3 linked regions of the Homo sapiens genome follow. The protein of the gene in region 3 purifies or fractionates together with the protein of the main gene of each other region. This does not show direct contact. Each region holds a gene or a part of one and is shown on either strand. Other genes may lie near its edges.

What was found.
Region 1: the proteins of SMG7 (region 3) and RFC3 purify together in Homo sapiens (affinity purification with mass spectrometry, with the first as the bait; one study listed by BioGRID). This does not show direct contact.
Region 2: the proteins of SMG7 (region 3) and TRIM71 purify together in Homo sapiens (affinity purification with western blotting, with the first as the bait; one study listed by BioGRID). This does not show direct contact.

What each region holds. Positions count from the first base shown.
Region 1 is NC_000013.11:33,824,609-33,828,262, reverse strand, and holds part of RFC3 (replication factor C subunit 3), read right to left. Parts: intron 2,475-3,654; coding exon 2,377-2,474; intron 1-2,376. UniProt on the Homo sapiens protein: Subunit of the replication factor C (RFC) complex which acts during elongation of primed DNA templates by DNA polymerases delta and epsilon, and is necessary for ATP-dependent loading of proliferating cell nuclear antigen (PCNA) onto primed DNA.
Region 2 is NC_000003.12:32,890,966-32,894,619, forward strand, and holds part of TRIM71 (E3 ubiquitin-protein ligase TRIM71), read left to right. Parts: coding exon 1-846; 3' UTR 847-3,654.
Region 3 is NC_000001.11:183,548,978-183,552,631, reverse strand, and holds part of SMG7 (nonsense-mediated mRNA decay factor SMG7), read right to left. Parts: intron 3,425-3,654; coding exon 3,344-3,424; intron 2,869-3,343; coding exon 2,709-2,868; intron 1,882-2,708; coding exon 1,711-1,881; intron 1,588-1,710; coding exon 1,442-1,587; intron 815-1,441; coding exon 701-814; 3' UTR 1-700. UniProt on the Homo sapiens protein: Plays a role in nonsense-mediated mRNA decay. Recruits UPF1 to cytoplasmic mRNA decay bodies.

The sequences.
Region 1 (3,654 bases), on a different chromosome or scaffold from region 3:
GGTAAAAGAGAGACAAAGGAAAGAATCCCAATAAAGGTGACAGAAAATAAGATAGGGAATAGAGCTCAGAACACAAGGTCATTTATTTACTTTATTTTTTTATTTTATTTTTTTAGAGACAGGGTCTCACTCTGTCACCCAGGCGGGAGTGCAGTAGCTTGATCATGGCTCACTGCAATCCCAAACTCCTGGGTTCAAGCAATCTTCCCACCTCAGCTCCCAAGTAGCTAAGACTACAGGCATGAGCCTAATTTTTTTTTTTTCTTCCTTTGGCAAGATCGGGTCTTGTTGGTCTCAATTTCCTGGCCTTAAGTAAAGTGTCATATATTTTTTATCACTTTGTAAAAATAATACAAGAGGTAGCTGTAGAGCCCCAGACCTAAAAAAAACTCTCTGGCCTTCCTCTCCTTCCCTAAGTACAGGAAAAATCACTTTACTTTTAACAAAATGACCAACACAAAAGGATCATGGCCAAATTTCAACAGTTATGCAAGAAAGACGAGCAGAGGAGCAGAATAACATCTTTATGGATATGAAAGAGACAAATTATTTCCTAAACTGTTACTTAATTCATAGTTATTGTTCTTTTTAAGTAACAGTAAGCTTCATGTAAGAATAGGTTAATTCAACTGTAATTGGGTGGTAAAATATTGTTCACATTTTTAATGACCCTACAACATTTCACTTTTAAAGGTTTGTAATTGTAATCAGGTATTATTAATTTTGATTAAAATTTTAAATTTCAACTAAATTTCTTATAATAACCGATGTTCAACATTTCTCTTATAATATTAATAACAGATTGAGGATAATGGCACAATATTTCCTATATTTACATACACATATCATTATTTTGTATAGTGATGTTTGAAACAGTGACTAAGCAGTACTTGGTAGGCAGAAAACAGCAAATTCAACATGACAAGTCATGTTTACTCTAGAAATGCAGAACAGTTTTGTTTTGCCTTTTTTTGGAGATATAGTCTCGCTCTGTCACCCTGGCTGGAGTACAGTAGTGCAATCACAGCTCACTGCAACCTTGAATTCCTGGGCTCAAGCAATCCTCCTGCTTCAGCCTCCCAAAGCACTGGGATTGCTAGCATAAGCCACTGTGCCTAGCAAAAGTTTTAATATTAGAAAATCCAGTAATATAACCTATGATATTAATGAACTAAAGAAAAATCATAAAAGCATATTCATGGATGAAAAAGAAGCATCAGACAATATTTAACACACATTTGTGTTAAAGACACTCAATAAAATAGGAACTTGAGAATATTTTCTTACCATGATCAAATACATACACCTCAGACCAAAATCCAGCAATTAATTATGGGGAAACACTAAGGCTTTACTTCCAGAGTCATGACATGGACATCTGCTATCTCTATTACTATTAACCACACTATTGGAGGGTTGGCCAACATAATTAGAGAAGAAAAAGTATTTAGAGCCATAAAAATTGGAAAAAGGAAAAACAATTTACAGATTACATTAATATACATCTAAAAAAACTCAAACTACCAAAATACAATTAAAAACAGTAAGAGAATTTAATAACATAGCAAGATATAAAAGTAGGATATGTTAGTAACTCACATATATAAAACATTCAGAAAATATAAGACTCCATATATAGTAGCAAAAAATAAATTCATAAATGTAAATTTATTTTGAAATATGGAGACTGAGGAAAGAAATCAGCTGAGAATATGTACAGCGAATTCACAAAACAATAAAAATGAGCAATAAAGGAAAAATTTATCACACTCACTAAAGAAGAACAAAACACTATCTTCTCCACTCAAACTGACAAAGATTAAAACAAATTATCCTCAGTGTTGGTAAATGTCACGGAGAAATGAGCACTCCCAAACACTGCTATTGGTAGTATAAATCTATACCCTCTTTCAGATAGAGAATTTGGCAAAATATATCAAAAGCATTAAATGATGGCATATTTATTATCACAAAATCTCACCAGTAAGAATGTATCCATATATATAGAAAAAAATGCTTGGATGGTAAAGTCTAAACTGTTATTAGTAGCTGTCTCTGGATGGTGGGAATATAGCTGATATTATTTTCTTTTTTATCTAAATATCTGATAATGAACATATGACTCGGTCATAAGAACAATTATTTTAAAATCATGTAATTTCTGATTTTAAATCACGTATTTTTATTCATCTTGTTCTAAAATATCAAATGGATGGCACAAATAATCCTCTTTCACATAAAATTCAATTCCATTAGACTATAAACTCCCATGAGCCCAGAGATCAGGCTTCTCTCCTGTTCACTTTCATAACTCAAAAAAAAGAGAGAGCACTAATGCTTGGCAGCTTCATAAAAAGAAGTCTTTTGATCACCTACCTTTAAAATCCCTTTGAGAGTTTGTTTCAAGTTGTTGTGATTGTGCCACTGTTTTCAACATCTCCTGAATGACTACTCGGTCACTATTTCCAGCATCACTACACAAAACAAAAATAATGGTATATAGTATGCCCTTAATATTGTTATTATAAGAAAAATGGTGAAGTTCTTAAGTGGTCAAAATTTTAATCAAAATTAATATCACTTAACTATAATTATAAGCCCTTCAAAAGTAAAAAGTTTTAGGGTCATTGAAAATACTAACAATATTCCAATTGGATTAACATCACTGAAAACACTAAATATGTTGTTACATTAAGTTTACTGTTAACATAAAAAGAGCAACTACTAATAATTAGGTAACAGTTTAGCAAATACTTTGACACTTCTGTACCGACTATAGAAAATTAATACCTAATTATAGCTAATTTCTCAACTATCTATAATTGTTGAAAATACAAAACGTAACTCTTTGAAACAGAAATTCAATCCCTAGTCCTCTTCCACATCCCCAAAATAGCAAAGATCTAAGAGAGAACAAACAAAGAGAAGTCTGCTCCCAGCACTAGAATGAAACTGATTCAGAGACTCAGTAAAGCGATGAGATAAGCAAATTGAGTTTAAGACACAAAGTCAAAACTCCGTAAACTGATGACTTATTATAGGTATTGAGCTGTCATTTACACCAATATTATTGCTTTGGCACTTCAGTCAAAGACCTCTCAAGCCAAGAGAAGTCAATTTAGGCTGATTCAATGTTAATTTCAATCACCCCAAAAGCAATCGGCTTATTCTCCAATTGCTTATCTATGCTTCAGAAGAACTCACGATGAGAAAAACAGGTCAAAGCAGTTAACTTTATTTTCTCAAAGAGCCACTAAGTTTTCCCAAGTCACTACTATTATTATAGATCAATATACCTACAGTGTTGCTCTTACGATCATTTTCCTAGCCAAGAATCCAAAACATTCTCCATTTGTATCTGGAATTAACATTCCCTTTGTTTCTTTGATCAAACCCATTCCCAACAACCTTATTTCTCTTAGTTTTCTTTGAGATGCCTAGAGAAAATAATAAAACCTATCTGTTAGGGTTGTTTTAAGGATTAAATGTAATAATACAGGTAAAGCTTCTCACAAAGTGCCTGCTACTGAAAACAAGATACACATTAGCTTGTAATGGTATTCCTCCTGCTCCATTCGGTCTCCTCCCTCTCCCTGAAATGGATGTTCACTCTTGCCTCTATGTCACTGCCCATGTTGAATATGACTGACAATA
Region 2 (3,654 bases), on a different chromosome or scaffold from region 3:
GGCATTGGGCTCCCGGGCCTGAGCTTCGGCAGTGAGGGTGACAGCGATGGCAAGCTCTGCCGCCCTTGGGGTGTGAGTGTAGACAAGGAGGGCTACATCATTGTCGCCGACCGCAGCAACAACCGCATCCAGGTGTTCAAGCCCTGCGGCGCCTTCCACCACAAATTCGGCACCCTGGGCTCCCGGCCTGGGCAGTTCGACCGACCAGCCGGCGTGGCCTGTGACGCCTCACGCAGGATCGTGGTGGCTGACAAGGACAATCATCGCATCCAGATCTTCACGTTCGAGGGCCAGTTCCTCCTCAAGTTTGGTGAGAAAGGAACCAAGAATGGGCAGTTCAACTACCCTTGGGATGTGGCGGTGAATTCTGAGGGCAAGATCCTGGTCTCAGACACGAGGAACCACCGGATCCAGCTGTTTGGGCCTGATGGTGTCTTCCTAAACAAGTATGGCTTCGAGGGGGCTCTCTGGAAGCACTTTGACTCCCCACGGGGTGTGGCCTTCAACCATGAGGGCCACTTGGTGGTCACTGACTTCAACAACCACCGGCTCCTGGTTATTCACCCCGACTGCCAGTCGGCACGCTTTCTGGGCTCGGAGGGCACAGGCAATGGGCAGTTCCTGCGCCCACAAGGGGTAGCTGTGGACCAGGAAGGGCGCATCATTGTGGCGGATTCCAGGAACCATCGGGTACAGATGTTTGAATCCAACGGCAGCTTCCTGTGCAAGTTTGGTGCTCAAGGCAGCGGCTTTGGGCAGATGGACCGCCCTTCCGGCATCGCCATCACCCCCGACGGAATGATCGTTGTGGTGGACTTTGGCAACAATCGAATCCTCGTCTTCTAATTGCATTTCCTAGGTTTCTGTGTTTGGGGTGTGTGTGCGTGTCTCTCTCTCTCTCTCTCTCTTTCTCTTTCTCTCTCTTTTTGAATTTCAAAGAAGAAACAGTCTCAGGGAAATTTCTTTTTTCTTTTTTTTTTTTAAAGAGAACAAGAAAAGTACAACATTGCTTAAGTCCTACCTCATCTTTATTTTTTTACAGATGAATGTACTTATCTTTTCTGCAGGGATTGAGCCTGTGAAGTGATAATTTCTATCTACCTCATAAATCTTTACATTTCCTTCTGCAACAGGCCCTCTTCCCCTCCTCAGTGGAGTTTGCATTTCCCTCTTCCCCTGCGTGGGGCATGATATGCACAAGCCTGGCATCTGTATGGCTGGGAGGGCACTGGATGTGTGTGGTGGGGTGTATTCTGTAGATTGAGCCAAGGAAACACAAAAAAAAACTACTAAGTAAAAAAACAAAAAACTATAAAACATGGAAAAAATAGGATTTGAAATGCATAATTATAGAATACCTGTGTTCTTGAGAATACTGTTTATATGGGGTTTAGATTATGTTGTGTTGTTTTGATCTTTTTGGAAAATCTTCTCTTTTTAAATGCTGCAACAGAGAAATTTCCTCTGTTCTCTGTTTATACCTCAGTGTGTTTAACATCCTCTTCTGCATCGTTTCTTGATCTTAGACGTTGTGGCTGTGGCTTGCTAGCCAAGAAAAGCAGACCCTTCATATTTTAGGGTATATAATCTTTGTTTCTTTTAAGGGAGGGTGTGTGCATGTTTGTTTCAAAGCCATCTTGCACCCAAGTAGTAAAGCTGAAAATGACACACTGCCTCCCAAAGAACCTCTCCTTTTCACACTTTGGTTTCTTAAAAAAGTATATAGATGGTAGCTCAGGATTTTTGATTAAACATATTCTCAAAAGTTATGCTTTCTTATTTTGCTGTTAGGTTATAAAGGGTTAAATGGAAGGAAAAAGGAAATTAACCTCGTTCTCAGAGAGAGGGTTTTCAGGCATGGGCTGACGTGGACATGAATGTGGGTGGACATGCGTGTGCTGAGGGAGTCAGGGAGCACATTAAAGAACAAGGCACCCCCAAACTATAGGAACTCCACAGAAAGGGCAGGGTCTGCCCTGACCCGCGAGTGCATGTTGTTCTGTAGTGCTAGGGGTTTCTTTTCCTAAGAAGAGTAGGCAAAGGAAAGAACTTTTATTTTACAAGCACAATTTTTTCCTGCTTTGAAAGTTCAGGGAAATAGAAGGTTTGAAAGTCAAATTAATACCAACAGCCCAGTCCCACACCCTCTGCTTGGGTCACTTTTTATAGGATTGTTTGCACCCAGGCCATGCTTTAGGACCTCATGGTTAACATGAATCCCCCCGCCCCCTCTCCCCCCAAGGCCTTTGACCATAAAGGATCTAGAAACCAAATTGTCCCAACCTGAAATGTAGGATGTAATGTCTTTTCTTAAACCTGTAACTCGGTACCAAAGAATGAAAATTTAAGGCTCCCACTGCAGAACTGTGGGGTAGAATCTGTGTCACTTTACAGGATTGGTTGGTTGTAAGCTGGACTTGGGTACAAAACTTGTGCTTCTGGGCATTGTCTGTCTTTCAAGTGCAAAGCAGATGTAGCTGATACCCTGCTTGTCAGAACCCAGTGGGTTCCTGCAATGCCCCAAATACTGAAATAAGAACCAAATTCTGGAGGAGCCCTCCTCAGGGAAAAGAGGGACTCTCAAACAAACGTCAGTGACTTACAAGGGAGACCTCTTGTTTAAAGACTTATGGATCAACTTCTGTTCCTCTGTTTAAGAGAAATTTCTATTGCAAAATGGGTATCGTTTTAAATGAGCAGAACAGATTAACAAATGGAGCAATTTGTTTCTGTTATCCCAATAGAAAAGGAGATGATGGGGACAGTGTGACAAGTCAATCAAGTTGCTTTTCCCGTACACCTCTTTTGGACGTTTAATTTACTACTACTACAAGCTACTCTGTCTCTTCCCATTGCTTTAATTCTAGGGTTTCTGAGTGACCAAAATGGGAAGGAAAAAAAAAACCTCATCTCACAGAGGAGAACTGCATGCAATAAAAGATTCAAAAGTTGGAAAGTAGCTTCAAACTGCTGCTGGCTCCCAGCTGCTGTTACAGGGTGGGAAGGTGTTAGGAAATGTTGTTTGTTAGAAGCTCCTTTTACTGTAGAATTTAATAGTGAATCCTTCCCCAATGCCTATTCAGTTGCCTTTTGGCCGTTAAGCTCTAAGTTCTTTGGTAAAGAGTTAATATAATTAAACATTTTTACTGTTTTCTATTTTGGAGTAACTTGGTGCTGATCTTCCTTCCCTTTCCCCAGCTGCCCAACAAGCCACCCTTTAAACACCAAAGACAACTGGTTTTAAATGCTTGAAAAAAATTTTATTGAGGAGATGGATCTTGATTAAAATCTTTTCATCATCATTTTCATTCTGCTCTTTTCTTTCTAATTTCCCCAGATGTAGGAAAATTTTGGGACCTGAATGAGAAATGTTCTTGGTGCATAACAGTAACTAGAGCTCCTTATTTGACATTTTACTATGGATGTGATCGAAAAGCCAAGATTTTCGCTCCATGGCTGAAATTATCAGGTCTTAATTTACAGACTTGTAAATTTGCAGGCTTAGAGCAACTAGAACTATCCCCTGAAATAGGTGTGTAGGTCAGAGATACTACCTCTTTGTCCTCAGTGGTGGTATATCTATCTCCTTACCTTTCTGTACCCAAAATGGTGCATGACTGGTATTTGAGAAACATGGTCACATTTGGAAAGCTT
Region 3 (3,654 bases):
GGGCATTCCCTGCTGGAGTCTCCTGGCCAGAGGAAGGCCTACCAGAGCCTTCTGACAGGCCTTGAACTCTCCCTTATGGAACATTTCCACTGGCTGAAGAGGTCGGTTCCCCATCCTGTCACCACCAACCTCTCACAGGAGCAGTGAACGGGGCTTTCCTTGCTACACACTGACTAGAAGCACACCTGTGTATGGAAGAATTCAGTGTGATATTTTACTACTGAGAGTAATAATAATAAAAGATGTTTAAGAATAATTTCAACTACATTCTCAGTCAGCAAAGCAATCATTAATGGATTCCTATTTTATTCCCCAAAGAGGAAAAAAGGACTGAGAAGTTCCCATTGGCTTCTCCCATCTGCCTTCCCTTCTCAGCTTTCACTTCCCATGTGGCTGGGGACATGCACGATGGAGAAGGTGAGAGGCGGTGATACCAAGTAACTGAGTGAGATAAACAGCAGTTCCTCTCTCTCTCCCTCCGGAGGGCCCCGGGGGGACGGAGAGTTCCTGATGGATTTTTCTTTTTGTTGCACTGCGAACATTTCGTGCACACTCAGCGGGCTGGTGGAATACTTACACCCTCTTGACAGCGAGAAACAGAAAAGAGGGCTGCCACCTGCAGGGGACTGTGTGGGCCAGTCCTGCAAACCCAACATGCCATGGTTTATGGAGCCTTCATTCCCAGGTTGCCACTTTGGCCTCAGTGTGGAGGGTTCATGGTGCCTTGTCCCCGTTGCTGTTTCTGCTTCTGCTGCATTAACAGCTGCTCCAGAGCAGAAGGTCCAGGATGCATCATGGAACTGGACCAGATAGACTGAAAAACAGTCCAGATCTTGTCAGCAGAGGTCAAATGCCAAGTTGTCTGAAAGGGATTTTTCAATCCCAGCCAAATATAAAGGCATATATATGGCCCCAAAACCCAACCCCACTCCCCATAAAAATCCAGCTATTAGAAAAAGTCATTATAAGACTCTTAAAGCTAGTTAGTTTCCATTAAGACTATTTTAAACCAGAAGAAGTGAAATCACATTTTATGTCAAGTCTTTTTACTGAAACTCAGCTGTATGTGGTACCACACAGGGCATTTACTATAAAGTTTTCAGGCAAATAAAACATTTCTAAAATTAGATACTCTTATTTTGTCAGAAAAGGCTTAAATCAAACATTCCAAAATGAATCAGAATTTTCTTAACCTTAGAATGAAACTAAAACCTTTGTTTTTGTCCTCCTGAAGATACTGCTTTACCACTAGTGAATTCAGAAATTAAAAATTATCACTCAAGAATCTTGTAAGGCAGACCATGTTTCTAGGACTTTGTTATATATGTGCTATGTATCAGTCAACTCCGAGGGCCTGAGAAGTCTAGCTATTTATGTGAATGAAAGCAGAGACACCTTTGCTGTAATAATCTTGTGGTTCTTGTTCCTGAAATCTACTCACCTTTAGGCTTTCCATGAGGACAGCAGAGGAATCCTCCATGGAAGGGCCATGGCCTGTCCAGGTGCCACTCGGAGTGCTGGCCTGATGCCAACTGCTCTCAGAGGATGACGTTGCTGAGAGATAATCAATGCCAAACCCACCCATGGCTAAGGGATGAAAAGAGATAAGAAAAATTCAAGAAGATGTTCTATCACTGCCAATTGCCAGACCCCAGGGAAGGATAGAGTAAATTCTTTCAATTTTGCCTGGCAATGAAATGTAGATCTCACCTGGCTTATCAGTTTTCCACCGATCTGCAGTCCTTCTATCCCTGTTATCTGGAGTCCCAATGGGTCCAAAATTGGAGAATGGAACAGAATTATGGTTGTGTGTTGGAGGAGAGCTGGGTAGGCTGCTTGGGTTAGAGGAATGAGGAGACTGGCTGGCTGGTGTTGAATGATCTATTAAATAATAGCAACACAGGATATAGTAAATCATTGTTTCACAAACATACAAAGAACTACAGGTTCCTGTAGATCTGATCACTAAAATTCTACTAACAATAACCACAGGGCTTTGAAGGAAAGGGAAACTAAAGGCTCCAAAGAGATCTGCTAGATGCACTAATTTGCCCTGCCACACATATCTAAGGCATATTCTTCGCCTTAAAAAAGCAAAATAAAATAGTAGGCAATTTTTGTCAACTGAATGAATGCCCTATTCTCACACGGCTATTTCAGATACATGTTTATTGGTCTTATGTATCAGAAAGAATTTGCTAACCTTAAGAATTACTATTAAGTCAGACTCTAAGTTAAAAATCTCAATTTTAAAAAGTGCAGAGCTGGGCACAGTGGTGTGCACCTGTAGTCCCAGCTACTTGGGAGGCTGAGATGGAAGGACTGCTTGAGCCCAGGAGTTTGAGTCTAGAGTGGGCAACACCACAAGACACTGTCTCAAAAAAAAAAGTGCAATTTTTCTGCAAAGAATGAACACCTACAAATAAAACTAAAAAGCAGCTGAGAACCATAAGATAGAACCTCTATTTTCTCCCTTACATCTCTGCTGGCTACTGAGGATGTAAAAAGTTTTGTCAGTAGCATTTATTACATAAACCGGCTTCTTCTTTTTTTTTTTCTATTTCCTTTCAGAAGTTACAAAAACAAACAAACAAAAAATAAAAATAACCCAACAAATGATATATTTGTAATTACAGAATCTCACTATCCCTTAATCAATCTGAGTGTACAGGAAATGTAAGGTCTATAATTTAAAGAGTAGTTAATACCTGAACTGGCAGGAAGTGATGGAGACCACGGAGTCCCTTCAAAAAGGGAATACAGAGATGTTTCCTGGGGGGCCATTGAGGGACTGAGTTCTGCTTTGGAGCTGGATGTCAGGTTTTTCCCATATACCTCATTGAACATACTATTATTTGGGTATCTTTCCTGAAAGACATGACAGTGAAGTTATAAACTCACCCCAAGGAAAGAGATTTGAGAAAATCCAATGTCTTGTTCATGGATGCTTGGTACACCTTAAGCTTTTCTTAGGAAGAGAAATTTTGAAGGCTTTTATTTCTTTTTGTTTCAATTTTCCAGTCAAATTAATTTTCCTCTTTGCTTTCTCTCACCCTTAAATTTGCTCTGTGTAAACTATCCAGGTTGAAAATGTGAATAATTTATTTGGCTCAAAAAGAGAGCCCTAAGGGTTTCAATATTAATGAGAAGTTAAAGGGTTTTAATTCATGATGTACAAGTCACTAGTATGCCCCAATCAGAGACAAGGGGGATAAAATCAAATATCTGGAATACACTAATACATGGAAAATAAAGAAAAAACAGACATACTGAAACAGTATGAGAAAGACAATGATCAGTCTACACTAAAAGCACACAGCAGGATTCTTCATTGTTCACCTACCTGATTGAGAGAGAATCCGGTGAGGGACAGGAAAGAGGATGAATGTGACATGAGCTCTGAGGGCTTCTCCAATAAGGATTTCTTCACAGTCCCAGAAAAAAAGGTAATTAAGTTATACCTTCTATTTTCTTAATATTAATCTTACCATACTATGGAACCAAAGCAAAAGCATGCCTGTATTCGCCCACTGAGTACAATTTGAGGCTCAGAAGATGTGAATTCAAATCTGTTAACACCAAGACACCGCCTAAGTGCCAGTTGCCACAGGTGCATAGAATCCTCCTTTTAGATCAAACCTAGTCAGAGATTAT